Linked DNA regions of Homo sapiens: all the other regions are linked to region 1. The links come from fine-mapping of genetic effects on gene expression. A gene starts in region 1. Each other region holds a variant in brackets. All regions are shown on one strand. Distances are between the middles of the regions.

Region 1 (5,703 bases):
TTAAGCAAGGTTTCTACAAAGATAAAACTGGATAGTTTCACCCAATTTTTACAAGCCTGGTTCTTGATGCCCAAGAAGCCGCCACCAGAGGGCAGACGAGGACAATATTTATAGTTGAGGAAAGTGTGCAGGGAGGTGAAAAGCTGTTATTTTGAAGATGAAGATGGTCACTAGGTCAAAGGCCTCAAACTGTTGAATAATTCCAAGGATTTCCTTGCCTACTCTCAACTATGCTTGTCTTCCAAAGGCCAGAGAAATGAAAAAATAAAAAATAACAATAATAGAAAAGGGGACAACTTTGGAATCATACAGACCAGACCAGATCAGACTTAGAGGATTTCTGCAATGATCTAGCGGGCAAATAAAATTAAGGAAAGGACGAACCTAACCTCTGTCCACCACGTGCGCCCCACAGTCCACAGCTGTGAGACTGCCCACCACTCTGGGCCCACACAAGGTTAGATAGCCCTGGCACCCACCAAGTTCCGAGACCCTCCCAGACACCCCCACAACAGGATAACTTCCAAGTGCTACACACAGAAAACACCAGCCCTGGTTCCTGGGACATAGTTGGCCCTTGAGAAGTAATTTTCTGTCTCAGAAGGTGAGAAACACATCCCCAACAGGTGTGTCCTCCACTCACAGAGGCGCCAAGGATAGTGCTGCAAAGCTAATTTTCCTTGAGATTTCAGAGGTCTTTTCAAATAAAAAAAATGGAAGGGGGAGATAATTTAAATACAAGGGAGGCTCTTTTTCCTGGTGTTGTGAGGAGGCAGGTCCCCAGGCCCTGGCACAGAATCAGCACCATTTTCACAGAGGTACCTGGCTTCCTCTTAGTTAACTGTGACTGTCGGGGAACAGGATGATACTGATGGCTCAAACACAGTCTCTGAGGCATCATGTGCCTCAAGGGAACTAGTCGAGCCATTTGTTTGAATTACATGACAGATCTCTTAGAATCCCTTAAGAGTGAGTGTTTTTCGGGGCCTGTCAGGGGCTGGGGGGCAAGGGGAGGGAGAGCATTAGGACAAATACCTACCACACAAACACACACCACACACTCACACCACACCACACTCACACCACACAAACACACCACACAGCATCACACACAATATACACACACCACACAGCACATACCCACCCACCACACACACATCGCACACACCACACACCACGCACCACACAAACACACCATACACACAAACACCACACACACACCAACACATTACACACACATCACACAGCACACACCATGTATCACACACACACCATACCCCACTCATACCATACCACACATACACCACACACTACACACAGACCACACACCACACCACCCACACACATGTCCTATACCACACACACACACACAGACACTACAGGCCTAACTCCATGAAATGAGGGCTACAGGAGAGTCAAGAAACCTCTTCTGTTTCTATGAACAAGATCAGTCACTGTCTTGCTTTAGGTGACTCAGGAAACCCCAAAAGGCTATGACTTCAGAAATGGGGCCTCGACACCAATTACAATGGCTAGTGCGTGCATGAACTAGTTGGTCTGCAAGTACAAGATGTATAAATATACAGGGGAAAAAACATCAAGTCAGCGACTTCCGCTCCTCAGCTTTTCTTTCCTTTCTAAGGGCAAAGGGGTAATTCCTTGCAATTCCCTGACTGATAAGAGTGAAGGTCAAATTGGGCCAACATCAAGGCTCTGGGAGTCTGCAGGAGCATGGGCATTTGGAATAAAAGAAACATGAGGTAACCAGAAAAAATAAGGGAAAAAATTGTAGCCAAAATCAGACAATGCTTGGCAGCAGTGAGTGACATAAGGCAAAGAAATTTCCAAGCATGAATGTGACCAACCCCGTCAACACGTGCAGCCTCATTTTCTCATCCTGGTTTGCTTTGGGTTTCTTTGATAAAATGATGGTGATGGCACAAAGACAGTAAGCTAACAAAGGCAGAAATGCTGACAGCAAGCATTCATCAAGGATACTGATTTTTATAACGACCCTCTGGAGTTTACAGATGTGACAACAGGGGTACTCAGATTTTCAGGATGAGAAATCTGGGGGTGAGGAGGTAAAGTGACCTGCAGTGGCGGGGTACCCCACTGGGCAAGATCTGCAGGCACAGGCTCCCATCATGCCAGGCCAGGGGACAGCGGTGACCCACCTGGGTCCTTACCACATCCCACAGGCAGGTCACCTTGCTGGCCTCACGCCCAGGAAAGGGGGCATGGAGGTTTGCACCATGTCACACTGCCATGAGACAGTCAACAGCAGAGCACACAGGCTGCCCAGCCTCAACAACACATGGGTGCTGGCGCGCACAGAGCATGGGGAAGAGGGTTTAGAAATAAGACCCATGGAGGCTGGGTGCGGTGGCTTATGCCTGTAATCCCAGTACTTTGGGAGGCCAAGGCGGGCAGATCACAAGGTCAGGAGATCGAGACCATCCTGGCTAACACAGTGAAACCCCGTCTCTACTAAAAATACAAAAAATTAGTCGGGCGTGGTGGTGGGCGCCTGTGGTCCCAGCTACTTGGGAGGCTGAGGCAGGATAAATGGCATGAACCCAGGAGGCAGAGCTTGCAGTGAGCCAAGATCGCACCTCTGCACTCGAGCCTGGGCAACAGAGAGAGACTCCGTCTCAAAAAAAAAGAAATAAGACCCCTGGGCCAAGACCCCATGATCTCTTCCTGTGCCAGGTTTCTCCTGGTCTCCATGCAAGGGACCTAGCAGACAAGCAGATAGCTTAACTTTGTCTACTACCAGGCAGCAGAAAGTCCTCGAACTTGGAAGGTATCCTGCATTTGCAGGAAGAGCAATCAGCACTTCTCATGGCTGAAGGCATCCGCTTGGAGGAGTCTTCTCAAAAGCCTTCAGGAAAAAACTCCATTCTCAACACCAACTCCAACCTCTGAACTGACCCCGCCGGCCAAATGCACCCTCCTGGTACAGGGCCTCCACTCGTGCCAGAGTGAGCCCACATCCTAGAGGTGATGACTTTTGAAAGAAAATTTCTGAATGCATACTTTAAAATCAAGCTTACCAAACCCTCTGAGAACAGTGATAACTCACCTTTCCTGGTCATCAGAAATGTTCTGGGCTGCCTCCTCGGCCATGTCCTGTGCAAGCTGGTCACAAGTATGACAGTCAGCAGACCAGCTTCTTCCTACATCCTCTGGAAGACAAAGAAATAGAGCTTAATGCTTCCAGCTTCTGTACTTGTGACCTCTTATCAGGACACACATCAAACACAGAGGGAAAAATCCAAACTCCAGTAACATTTTCCCAAGCAGAAACAGCTTTTGTTTTCCTAACACTGTCAGACAAATTCCTTCCTAAGAAGTGTGCTTTTGACAGACGTGGTGGCTCATGTCTGTAATCCCAGCAATTTGGGAGGCCAAGGTGGGTGGATCACTTGAGGCCAGAAGTTTGAGACCAGCCTGGCCAATATGGTGAAACCCCGTCTCTACTAAAAATACAAAAATAGCCAAGTGTGGTGGCACACATCTGTAATCCCAGTTACCCAGGAGGCTCAGGCGAGAGAATTGCTTGAACCTAGGAGGTGGAGGTTGCAGTGAGACGAGATTGCACCACTGTGCAATAGAGTGAGACTCTGCCTCAAAAACAAAATGAAACAAAACAAAACAAAACAAAAGTGTGTTTTAGGTAGGGATCTTTGTGGCTGCCTGAAACAGATCACTACTCAAGGGAGAGACTGTACATGGAAGCTGAGAGAAGTCTGAGAATAAAAAGCTGTAACTGTTGGCTGGGCGCGGTGGCTCACGCCTATAATCCCAACACTTTGGGAGGTCGAGGTGGGCGGATCACGAGGTCAGGAGCTCGAGACCAGCCTGGCCAGCATAGTGAAACCCCGTCTCTACTAAAAATACAAAAATTAGCCAGGCATGGTGGCACGCACCTGTAGTCCCAGCTACTCGGGAGGCTGAGGCAGGAGAATTGCTCGAAACCGAGAGGCGGAGGTTGCAGTGAGCCGAGATCGTGCCACCACACTCCAGCCTGGGCAACAGAGCGAGGCTCTGTCTCAAAAAAAAAAAAAAAAAAAAAAAGCTGTAACTGTCCACAACTGCACTGGGGAACAGGATACCTTCCACAAGAGCAGAAGAGCATTCCTAAGGAAGGCTGGCAAGGCACACACTAGGCGCACTCTGTCTTACGGCAGAACCTAGGAATGATCTGGTTCCGAACCTCCTGCACCTCTCCTTGTTTGCAACTGGCGGGTCAGACTGAGTTCTCTCCATTACGAAACATTTTCTCTTATATTTTTAAAGCACTTGTTAGTTGTCTTAGTTCTTTATACCAACATTTAAACCTTCAGAGATTTTAGAAAACTTAATGTTTTACTCAGAACACTAGATATTTTTTCTCTCCACTCTGAAGAGAGTGATACCAAGAAGAGTGGGAACGTTTTCAGGCACAAGCTCTTTCTCAGATGGGAACACAGACCCCTTGAACAATGATGAACCAAGCTACGGGTGTCCGGCCTTGGATCCTGTGTTTTCTGGAACTTTGCTGCCAATGAGGTGAGTAACCAGAGCCCTGTGGTGGGTTAAGGGGCCTGCTGTTGACCTAACACACCTGTCTCCTGGGGCCTGCTGCCACCTCTGCTCTTCTCACACTGCCTTGTCAGTGCCTCTGGCTTTGTCCCCACTGTGCTTGTTGTGAGTAAATCTCAGATTTGGGGGAAATGCATACTTTCCAATTTCATTAGCAATACACTTTCAAATGCGCCTGTGACCAAGAAAAGGATAAACTGCAAACTGCAGTTTGTAAACGAACAAAATCCCTTCTTTCTGAAGCCCCTGTGATTTGCTCTGACACCTTCCTGTCAAATCTAAACAGAGTCCACTGGGTAAAGACACCTGTGCAACCCTGCCTGCTGGGCTGGCATCCATACCCACACGCACACCTGGATGCTCTGACCTTGCTGCTGCCTGTTCCTTCCTTGTGGGGCTGGACATCCTGAGAACAGGGCCTACATTTAAAGTTTGTGATGTTTTTGAAGCCAGCAGTGCTAACCAAAGATGCCAGGAAATGAGGAGGAGCAAAGAAAGTGACATAATTGAGGGAAGAAATATGCCTGCACTGCCCTACGTGGGAGGCACTCTCATAGCCACTCTCATAGCCACTCTCAGCTACTGGAGCTTAAGTTACTTACAATTAAATAGAATTAAGAATTAGCTGGAGAAACCCCGTCTCTACTAAAAATACAAAAAAATTAGCCAGGTGTGGTGATGCACGCCTGTAATCCCAGCTATCCAGGAGGCTGAGGCAGGAGAATCGCTTGAACCGGGGAGGCAGAGGTTGTGGTGAGCCAACTTCGTGCCATTGCACTCCAGCCTGGGCAATGAGCGAAACTCTTGTCTCAAAAAAAAAAAAAGAATTAGCTTTAGCTTCTCCATCATTAGCCATATTTCAAGGGCTCAGTAGCCAAGATACAAACTATACAATGTTTCCATCATTGCAGAACACCCTCGGGGCCAGCGCTGGGCTGGGCAGCCTCGCCTTTTTCCGGGCAGTGCGGCCAGCATTGTTTCCTCAGAGCAGCTGCATCCAGACAAGGGAGGGGTTCCCAGTTCATCTACATTCTTGGGCCATACTCCTCCACCTGGGGTTTGCCGAGCACTGCACTGGTACAACAGGGAGCACAACACAGAACCAAACTCACTGCT
Region 2 (5,703 bases), 31 kb after region 1:
AATATACTGCAAGACTACAACTAAAACTAGAGAATTCAAGTCATGCCATTTAATGTGGGGTGTACAGCAGGACTGCAGGCATCACCTACATCAGGATCTGGGACCACCGGTTCTTGTAAGTCCTTCCACAATTTCCTAGGAATCACCTTTATGGGGATGTCATGGGTCACAATGCGGCTACTGCTTGACATAGATAACTGCCAAGAAAAGAATTTAAAAATATTTTTATGTTGTTAATATTAAGCAACAACAAAACAAACCCGAAGACCCGGGACAAAAAAGTTGAAATACCAAATCTAAGTGGAATGCTGTCAGTTTATTCACTCAAAAGCCATTCGACCAATATTGATGGTGCCAATATTTATGGAACAGACTCTGGGTACTTCCAGGAACTGGGAAGTGTGGTGATAAGACAAAAAGGTCCTTAGTGTTCCAGTGGAACAAACAGATCAATAAAAATGCAAACAAATGAAACTGTATGAAATGCTCATTATAGCCGTGAGAAAGCACTCCACAGAGACCAGGGTGAGTGTGGGGGAGTTTCCTTAGACTGAGGAGGTGACATTTCAGATACCACCAAAAGCAGGAGAAGCAGCAGCCATGGGAAGACAAGAACAAGGGGACAGGGTTTCAGGCTGGGGAAACAGCACATGTAAAGCCGTGAGGCAGAAAGAAGCAAGCCTGCTATGTTGACGCAACCAAGAGAAGGCCATTCTTTGGGCATAGGACACTCAGAGTGCTGCAGTTTCTAACAGTTAAAAGGCAAACTATATTTATTTCTAGGGGCTCCTATGAGACTCACAGACCAAAATATCTTGCACTTTTGGACAAAAAGTATTATACGTTACTATCTTGCTTTTCCTTAAGCAATAGAAAAAACATACCAAACTTATACTGTGACATGAAATGCCCTAATTAGCTCTGAGAACTGCCTGACTGCAAAGAGTTGAGAGTTATGAAGAAAAGCTGGGCTGGGCGCCGTGGCTCATGCCTACAATCGCAGCACTTTGGGAGGCCGAGGTAGGTGGATCACTTGACGTCAGGAGTTCGAGACCAGCCTGGCCAATATGGTGATACCCCGACTCTACTAAAAAAATACAAAAATTAGCTGGGTGTGGTGGTGGGTGCCTGTAATTCCAGCTACTCAGGAGGCTGAGGCATGAGAATCGCTTGAACCCGGGAGATGGAGGTTGCAGTGAGCCGAGATCGCGCCACTGCACTCCAGCCTGGGTGATAGAGAGACTCCGTCTCAAAAAAAAGGAAATACGAACCTCATTCTATGAGTAGGAAGAGCAACTCTGGATTGTATGTATGCGCATGAGTTTGTGTATTTGTGTGTTTGGAGGACAGCTGTGCACTAAATTCATCTGGCAGTAGCATATAAAACATACGTGTACTGAAGAACGAGGGGCCATTTAAAGGTTATTATAGCAGATGAGGCAGGGTGGGAGTGGGGAGAAAACATGTCAAAGGTGAAAATGGATAGAGAAACCATGATTTCTAGACAAGGTGACAATACCACTACAAGAAACAGAGAGGCTGGAAGTTTCACGGCTTGGAAAAAGCAGCATTCTAGCTGAATGCATATGATAACAACACAATTTTAAAATGAGGAGGAACTGACTCTAATGCAAAATATAGTTATGGACCAGATCTTTAAATTTAAATAAACCAAACAGCTTTCAACAGTATTTATTGTTAAAAAGGCTAGGCTAACTATGTCTATTCCTTCGAGGCCAAGACTTCTGTGTTAGAAACCCTGACTCTCCTACTCACCAGCTCCACGGAGACCGTGAGGCAGGGAAAGTGTTTATTAGTCAGTTTGATTTTCAAAGCCCTGGCATTCTGGGCAGTCTTCAAGGCTCGAGATAAGTTTTCCGATGTTAGCTCTAAATAAATCTCATTGTTTTCTGCAGAGACACCCTCCATTTGAAATTCGTTGAAGAAGTTCTCCTAAGGGAAAAAAAATGAGGGATGAGGGAGGGTATATGTGATCTTTCCAGTGACAATCTGCAGAGTGTGCAGGCCTCTCAGAAGCTTTTGCTCACCTGTTCCAGCTCACACCACATGCTCACTCCTCCATTAGCCAGCTTGTCACAAAGGATGAAGTTAAGCTTATCAGGGCTGATGCGGAGGGTGCAGGTTTTGGCAAGCTTGGCTATCATGTTACTGATTCCTAAAGCAGGGGTTAAAATAAGGAATTACTAAAATGCACATTATGTATCCTAGAGACCAACTTATTTTGCAGAATTTCTTGTTCATCAACTTCTCGGTGGAAAAATAACCACTTAACGTTGGTATCACACTGGAAAGTACTTTAATACCCCTGATGTCACGCAATTCTCCCAACAAACTAGGGGAGATGTACAGCACACATCATCAGTGTTCAAATAAGAAAACAGGCACCTACCAGTCATTCATTCATTCAACATGGATTTATTGACTACTAGGTACTGCAATACACAGTTAAATGCAAGGTTAGGCACTGTCAGGGTGGAGGGACGAATGGGGCCTTGAAGGTATGTCAATGCCTGATAAAGCCGTCTATGGGAGCAGTGGCCGCTTTTTTTTAAAGCCACGTGATCGGAATCAAGTTTCAGAAACGTCCCTTGAAAGCCGCCTTCATCCCCACAAGTGCCCTCCGACCCGCCCCGCGCCCTCCCGGCCCCACCCTCCCGCGGCCTACACCAGCACCCCCATCCCGGCCCCATCCTCCCGCGGCCCCTTCCGGCGCCCATCCCCGTTCTGATCCTCCTGCGCGGTCCCCACCGCGCGCTCACTGCTTCCTTCCGTTCCTCCCTCGCTCCTCTCCGGCCTCCCTGCTCACGTGTGAAGTGGTTCAGACAGGCCCCGTCCACGATCTTGGCCCGAAACTTCATGGCCGCGGATGGCGCAGCCGCGGCGGGCCTCTGTGGGTAACAGAAAAGCGTCGCGCCCTGAGTGTCCCCGCCCGGAAACACGGCAGCGCGAACAGTGGTTCCGCCCGGCTCGGGCTACGCGACTCTTACCAGGGTTATCTCCGGGCCACGCCCCGGAGGAGGTGGGGCTAGGGGGTCACGCCCTAGAGGAGGTGGGGTCACGGGTCAAGGATCACAGGTCACGCCCCGGGGGAGGTGGGGGTCCCAGTCTCCGGGTATGCCTCCGCGCTGCCGGGTAATGGTGGGATCTACTTTTAGTGAGGCGGAGGCTTCAAGCCCCAGATTCGGGGAGGTTGTTCTGAGAATTCACGTTTTGAAAGAATTTTGTGACACCTATTTCAAGTGTTATTTTAAAATATCCAAATAAAATTAATCGTTTATAAAGGTTAAACAATATTATCTTAAATATACCTAAGGTAGAGCAGCTTTAAACCCTCCAGCCTCAGATGACGGTACTGGTACTTTGGTATTGAAGCATCTTGGTGGATTAAGGTTCTGAAAATTGTTTCAAATGACTTCTAAAAAAATTGAACATATTACTGGCTAGTTGGTAAAGTCGGGAAGCTTAAAGAACACTGACGTTAAGTGATAATTCTGCAGTTTGCCTCAAGACGAACTTTATTACATCCGATAAAATTCTTATTAGCATAAATAATGTCATTAGGATTTTTTTTAAAGGA[A/AAG]AAATTTTAAAGGGGGAAATGAAGCAACAATTGTATCTAATTTGGTTTTTCAAAGACTAAAGATTATCTGTGTTAACAATTGTTATTTTTAATGTCCTTTGCAAATAGACTAGAACCTTGTCTTTAACTTGACACATAGAATCAAGATAATGATAATGCAGATGATGATGATGATGATTTTGAGACGGAGTCTGGCTCTGTCGCCCTGGCTGGAGTGCAATGGCGTGATCTTGGCCCACTGCAACCTCCACCTCCCGGGTTCGAGGGATTCTCCTGCCTCAGCTTCCCAAGTAGTTGGGATTACAGGCACAAGCTACCATGCCCGGCTAATTTTTGTATTATTAGTAGAGACGGGGTTTCGCCATGTTGGCCAGGCTGGTCTCGAACTCCTGACCTCAGGTGATCTGCCCACCTCGGCCTCCCAAAGTGCTGGGATTATAGGCGTGAGCCACCGCGCCAGGCCCAGATAATTTTCAAAGACACATGCACACATATGTTTATTGTGGCACTATTCACAATAGCAAAGACTTGGAACCATCCCAAATGTCCATCAATAATAGACTGGATAAGGAAAATGTGGCACATATACACCATGGAATACTATGCAGCCATAAAAAAGGATGAGTTCATGTCCTTTGCAGGGACATGGATGAAGCTGGAAACCATCATTCTCAGCAAAATATCACAAGGACAGAAAACCAAACACCGCATGTTCTCACTCATAAGTGGGAGTTGAACAATGAGAACACATGGACACAGGGAGGGGAATATCACACACTGGGGCCTGTTGGGGGGTGGAGGCCTGGGGGAGGGATAGCGTTAGGAGAAATACCTAATGTAAATGATGAGTTGATGGGTGCAGCACACCAACATGGCACATGCATACCTATGTAACAAATCTGCACGTTGTGCACATGTACCCTAGAACTTAAAGTGTAATAATAATAAAAAGGTGCAAAATACAAAAATTGCAGTTTTTGCCTATTTTAAGACTATAACATGAAGCAAAATTCTAATCTTCATTGTCATATGCGAGTGTTTGCCAAACCAAACTTAATAGATCACTTTCAAAGTTATGCCAACAGGCAGGGCAGGATGGCTCTCTCCTGTAATCCCAGCATTCTGGGAGGCCGAGGCGGGTGGATCATCTGAGGTCAGGAGTCTGAGATCAGCCTGGCCAACATGATGAAACCCCGTCTCTACTAAAAATACAAAAATTAGCCCGGCGTGATAGCTTGTGCCTGTAATCCCAACTACTCAGGAATCTGAGGCAGGAGAATCACTTGAACCCAGGAGGCGGAGATTTCAGTGAACAGAGGTCTGCCACTGCACTCCAGCCTGGGCGACAGAGCGAGACTCCGTCTCAAAAAAAAAAAAAAATGTTGGCATAACTCTTTTTTTTTTTGGAGACGGAATCTCGCTCTGTCGCCCAGGCTGGAGTGCAGTGGCGCAATCTCGGCTCACTGCAAGTTCCGCCTCCCGGGTTCACGCCATTCTCCTACCTCAGCCTCCCGAGTAGCTGGGACTACAGGCGCCCGCCACCACGCCCGGCTAATTTTTTGTATTTTTAGTAGAGACGGGGTTTCACCGTGTTAGCCAGGATGGTCTCGATCTCCTGACCTCGTGATCCGCCCGCCTCGGCCTCCCAAAGTGCTGGGATTACAAGCGTGAGCCACTGAGCCCGGCCATGCCAACATTTTTTATTTGCCCCATATGATCTGCAGGAAAAAGCCTGTTTTTTAATTTCCTCATGAATGAGTTTTGAAGAGTTGAGCATCACATTAAATAAAGTGGCTGCTAGTAGATAAATGAATATAATTAAAGAATGTATCTAAATAAACTTTGTAAACAATGTTTTGTAACATCTTGATCTTTAGTGTAAATTGCTTAATTTTATGTCATAAAAACTGATAAAGCAATTTTTTAAACTTCCTAAGAAGATGTGATATGATACATTCTGCATGGACAAAAGCCCAAATAATATAGGAATTTGACTCAAGAAATAGAAAATAAAGCTGCAATTATCTTTTCTTGGAAGAAGAAAGGAATCTTTTATGTGCTCTTGCAATTTTCTTAAACAGGTTTAGCAAATTAATTCATTAACT
Region 3 (5,703 bases), 74 kb before region 1:
AAATCAAATCCAGCACACAGAAAAAGATGTATACATCATGACCAAATGGAATTTATTCCCAGACTGTAAGAGTGATTCAACATCTGAAAATCAATCAATTTTATATAACTTGTATCTTAGTTTGTGCTATTATAATAAAATACCTGAGACTGGGTAATATATAAAGAACAGAAATTTATTTTCACAGTTTTGGAGTCTGGGAAGTCTAAGATCAAGACACTAATAGGCTCAGTGTCTGGTGAGGCTGCTCTCTGCTTCCAAGGTGGCACCTGTTGCTGCCTCCTCCAGAGGGGAAGAAGGCTGTGACCTCACATGACAGAAGGGACAGAACGACCAAAGAGGGCCTATCTAGTTCCCTCCAGCCATTTTATAAGGTGACTAATTTCATTTATGAGAGCAGAACCCTTATGGCCTAATCACCTCCTACAGACACCACCTCTTAACTACTGTTGCACTGGGGATAGTTTGAACAGGAATTTTAGAGAGGACACAAACATCCAAAACGTAACAAATTAATGGACTAAGGGACAAAAAACATATAATTGTCTCCATAGACCTAGGAAAAGCATTTAACAAAATCCAATACGTTTTTATAATGAAATACACACACAACAAACTAGGAATAGAAGAGAACATCCTCAATCTGATAACGGTTGTCTGTGAACGACCTCTAGCTAATATTAATATGAAGTGGTGAAAGACTGAATGCTTCCTCCTTAAAACTGAGAAGAAGACCAGGATTTCCACGCTTGCCACTTCTGTTCAGCGTTGAATGGAGGTTCTAGTCAAGAGAATTAGGCAAGAAATAGAAATGGAAGGCATCCAGATTAGAAAGAAAGAAGCAAAGCTATCTCTAGTGACAGATGACATGATCTTATATAGAGAAAATCTCAAGGAATTCGGTAAAAAACTATTAATACTAACAAACATGTTCAGCAGGGTTATAGGATACAAGATACTCCCCAAACTGATGTACAGACTTGACAAATCCCTATGAAAATCCCAGTTAGCTTTTGTTTTGTTTTGTTTTTCTACCCCCTGCAGCAGGAGTCTGGAGCCCCAGTCTGCCCCAGCCAGAGCAAGGCTGGAGAGGCTGGCCGGCACCAAAGCCATTGTCCCATGCCTGTGCTGCTTTGTTTTTGCAGAAATCGACAGGCTGATTCTAAAACTCATATGGAAATATGAGAGACCTGAAAGACCCAACCTTCTAAAAAGAACAAAGTTAGTGGGCTCAGGTTTTTCAGTTTCAAAATTTACTACTAAACTATAATAATCAAGGCAGCATAGTACTGGTATGAGAAGAGACATTCAGACTAATGGAATAGAATTGAGAATCAAGAAACAAACGTTTTAATTAGGTTATCCATTATAAAAATACAGATAACCTACATAAAAATGGGTAAAGTACTAAGCAGACATTTCTTCAAGGAAGATATACAAAGCATATGAAAAGATGCTCAACCTCATCAATTATTAGAGAAACGCAAGTCCAAACCTTAATGGGATACCACTTCATACTAACTAGAACAGCTGTGAACAAAAAGACAATAACCAGTGTTGGTTAGGATATCAAGAAACCAGAACTCTCATACCTCGTTAGTGGGAATACAAAATGGTGCAGCCACTACGGAAAATAGTTTGGTAGTTACCATAGGACACTGTTTCCATTCCTAGTTACCTACCCAAGGAAAATGAAACCACACACTCACACAAAAACTTGCACATAAATGTTCATAGCAGTGTGATTCATTATAGCCAAAAAGTGAAAACAACCCACACATCCATCAACTAATTAATGAATAAATAAAATATGATATGTTCATACAATAAAATATTATTCAGCAACAAAAAAGAATGAAGTACTAATATATTTTGCTACATAGATGAAACTCAAAAACATTCACATGCTCAGTGAAAAGACAGTTACTTAAGATCATATGTTATATTATCTCATTTATATGAAATTTTCAGAATCAGCAAACCTGTAGATATTAAATAGATTTGTGGTTGTCCGGGGCCGGTGGGAGGAAGCTGGGTGGTGGGTAAAGGGAGTGACTGCTAATAAGTCAAGGTTTTCACGGGATGATGAAAAATTGTCTAAAACTAGCTTATGGTGAAGGCTGTATAATTCAATAAATTATTAAAACCAAGGAGTTGCATACTTTAAATGGATGAACATGTGGAATGTAAATGATATCTTTAAAAACTGTTTTTAAAAAAGAAGAAAGTGAGGCTGGGCGCGGTGGCTCACACCTGTAATCCCAGCATTTTGGGAGACCGAGGCGGGTGGATCACGAAGTCAGGAGTTCGAGACCAGCCTGACCAACATGGTGAAACCCCATCTCTACTAAAAATACAAAAATTAGTCAGGCTTGGTGGCGCACACCTGTAATCCCAGCTACTCAGGAGGCTGAGGCAGGAGAATCACTTGAACCCGGGAGGTGGAGGTTGCAAGTGAGCCGAGATTGTGCCACTGCACTCTCCAGCCTGGGTGACAGGCGGAGACTCTGTCTCAAAAAAAAAAAAAAAAAAAAAAGAAGGAGAAGAAAGTAGCTTTATAGGCTCTGAAGCACCTGCAAGAATGCCATGCAAATATGAGTTAGCAGGATTGCAGTGATAGCACCCGGACTTTTTTATTTGCTCCATCTTAAGAAGATGAGTTCCTGACATGTTTTTGACGCTTGTTAACAACTTGGGGGAGAGCCAACTCTGGAAGAAATACAAATAATGGCTAGGATGTCTGTGTGGCATTGTGTTACTCACAGGTCCTCGCCCAGACAGTCATTTCCATGGTAGCGGGGCAGCACAGTCACCACCACAGTGCACGGCTGGACCTTGGAGCCTT[T/C]GCCATCTGTGATTTCAGTGGAAACCATGACTGTGAGGGAACATGTCAGAAGAGGGTCATCTTGGACATGTGGGTTACAGAGATGCTTCTTCACACACAGACAGCATCTTCTGGATGACTAAAACTGTGACAAGTGCTGACAAAGGGGCCAGGCTCCGAGCCACAGGGAGCCCAGGGAGTGAAATACAAACTCGGCAATGGACTGTCAAGGCTTGGGGTTATAGTTTGACCAGTTCCTACATGATATATAGAAATTTAACAGGCCTAGAAAAAAGGTGAAGAATTCTGACAGAGGGGACTTTTTAAAAGACATAAGACCTATTTGGGGGACCCAGGAATTCCTTCATGTAACAGGGGTGCAGGGCTGTGGTGAGGGGACCTGCAGATCAGGCTCAGAGTGCAGGTGATGGCCAGATGCTAAGGGCCACAGGCACCGTCATAGGAACCACATAGAAAGATCGACGCCCAGGTGTGCCCTATGTATCTTTATAACAACATTTTCAACCTGAAACTCAGTGCCAAGGATTGGGGACTTAATTTTGGAGGTTGACACTTCTCAAGATGTGGTCTATGGACACTTGCAGCCCAAGCGCCAGGCATCTCGTCTACAAGCAAATTCCGTGCTCCATCTTCTCCCCACAATCCTGAGTCAGTGGATACTAGGTGGGCTCTGGAGGCAGCAATTTTAACAAATACCCTTAACAGATAAGGTTGGTCCTATGCACGGATATAGAAAATCCCAAAGGAGCAGTTTTTAGGCAAGACTCCACTTATTTTGACAAGCTGAGTCTGCGCCACACTCACTCATGCAAAAGATGGGACAAGAAAAGGTATGTATTAAGTATTTACTATATTGTATTTATTTTGCTTATGTTCGCCCCCTTACAAATCTTGAGTTCAGGTATTCATAGGAATTGGCTGTACTGATAGTGACAATTACAAACAAATTGTGGTTGTGAATGATTTGAGTAACATCACTAACCCTGACACTGCTCTGGGACTGTGACCTGAAATTTGGTCTGTAAATTTATGTTAAGAAATCTTTACTTCCAACACAGAGCTGAGGCCCTGGCCCAAGGTCCTTCTATTGGAACATTTGCCCAGCCTAAGTCTCACATAACCCCGTACGCAGCTTGACTTCAAGAAAACTCAAGATCAAACGGAGTACAAAGTCACTGTGATACAAAGCAGAGCATGATTATGAAGATCTCAAAATGCCCTGCTCAGAAGTTTTGCTCAATATAATTGATTTGTATCTAGAAGAAGGTACAAGTGTTTCTAACTGAAGGTGACAGGCAAAGTTTCATGAAGAAGAAGGAACTTCAGCTTGGCTTAAAGGAGAGGTGAAACTTAAATAAATCAAGTGAATGAACTAGTTCAGACTTCAGGCTCTAATAATCTTACCAGTCCAAATTAAAGAAACTTCTAGATCAGTGACTCTCAACCTTCCCTGCACATCAGAATCTTCCAGGCATTTAAAAAATAAAACAGAAACTTAAAAAGTCACCAACCCCCAAGATTTTTATTTAACCAGCCTGGGTTTGCACATGTCAAGATACCTTCCTAAATGGCTGCATGTCTCTTATGCTCAGTTGAAGCCAGTTCCAAGGGACTGGTTTAGAAGTAACCACAACCTCAGGAACAGGGTCAGAGCAGAAAGTTGTAAACACTGTGGGATTCATTTTGTTTTGAGGTTATGTTACTAACATGCTAACTCACATTCATTTACCCCACATTTTGTTCCTTAGGGGGATACCTTGATTTGGTTTCATCTATAATAAATGCAAGATTCACCAGATATGACATATTTCATTAGTAAGTAAGAAATGTCCTGATTTTAAATATTTAATTTATATATGAAAAAACATTCTCTGGCATTTTATCATTTACAGTGTATTTCAGTTAAAATTTAAGATATAAAAAACTGATTTAATTTATTGATATTACTAATGTTCTTTCTGCACTAAAAGGTAGATAATAAACCTAAACTGAAAAGCATTAAACTGATCAAGGTGATTTTATTTTCTAGACACAGTTTAGTTTTTGAAAACCAGGAAAAAAGGTTTAGAACTGTAGGTTGGCACAGCTAGTGACTCCAACTGGCACCATAGCTTACCTTTGTAATTGTCCAAGTGCTCACCAGCTGGCAACACAAAATAATACTGGGTGTCTCTCCCATGGTACAAAGTGTGTTTGGAGGTGTTTCCTATCTGGTAACTAAATTCATAATGGAAGTCCTATGATCCAGTCCAAGGGAGCAAAAATAGTATAAATGAACACACTGTGAATGATATCACAATACATACACACACAGCTGAGCCTTCATTGTACCAAGGACATTCTTTACAGCCAGGAAGAGGGTAAGTGACAGGTAAGCAGCACTCCCAGCTGCCCAGAGCCCTGGGCCCTGCAGGGCTCTCCATTCACCAAGCCCAAAGGGCTCCTCGAACAACACTGAGATTCCCCACCAGTGTCTGTGTCCTCTCCTTGTCCTGGAACCTCCCCACAGTCACAAATCAGACTGTCACAGCCCCCTCAGGGTGAAGGGCCCCAGCTGCCCCTCAGCTTCCACACTGCTGGGCATCACACAGCAGGAGGAGCAGGAGGGAGGGGTCGGGGTGCCTCAAGGGAAGGCCATGGTCTGGGACCTCTGGAGGACAAGGGTGGGGCTTCCTACAGAAGGGGTCAGGCAGAAGGGCAGGGAGGTCAGTGTCCTGGCTGAGAGGATGGAGAGGGCAGTGCCAGGGTCACAATATCACAGGCTCCTGTCCTGCCTGCCCATCACCTGAGGCATTCATCTTTTTTTAAATTTTTTTTTGAGATAAGTCTCACACTGTCTCCCAGGCTGCTGTGCAATG

Which allele goes with the higher level. Positions count from the first base shown, and alleles are read on the strand shown. Sizes are in standard deviations (SD) of each study's normalised expression. Not every link is listed here.
As copies of AAG replace A in region 2, the expression in cerebral cortex of the gene that starts at base 3,155 in region 1 goes down (moderate effect, 0.53 SD a copy in GTEx).

Evidence for each region. PIP is the estimated chance that this variant, and not a neighbour inherited with it, causes the effect.
Region 2: its variant is fine-mapped to the expression of PKD1L1 in cerebral cortex (GTEx, PIP 0.96).
Region 3: its variant is fine-mapped to the expression of PKD1L1 in lung (TOPMed, PIP above 0.99).

What each region holds. Positions count from the first base shown.
Region 1 is chr7:47,945,312-47,951,014 of GRCh38, forward strand. It overlaps PKD1L1 (polycystin 1 like 1, transient receptor potential channel interacting), which reads right to left and starts at 3,155. Exons shown (of 57, transcript NM_138295.5): 1 at 3,086-3,155. The coding sequence starts at 3,129.
Region 2 is chr7:47,976,641-47,982,343 of GRCh38, forward strand. It overlaps HUS1 (HUS1 checkpoint clamp component), which reads right to left and starts at 2,975. Exons shown (of 8, transcript NM_004507.4): 1 at 2,828-2,975; 2 at 2,049-2,176; 3 at 1,777-1,953; 4 at 90-197. The coding sequence starts at 2,879. RefSeq lists silencers at 2,496-2,545, 2,626-2,685 and an enhancer at 2,756-3,045. The variant A/AAG (reference allele first, on the strand shown) is at 3,599.
Region 3 is chr7:47,871,136-47,876,838 of GRCh38, forward strand. PKD1L1 (polycystin 1 like 1, transient receptor potential channel interacting) reads right to left here. Exons shown (of 57, transcript NM_138295.5): 23 at 4,962-5,082; 24 at 2,764-2,875. Among named protein-coding and RNA genes, the nearest start is that of PKD1L1, 74 kb to the right of the region's middle. The variant T/C (reference allele first, on the strand shown) is at 2,846.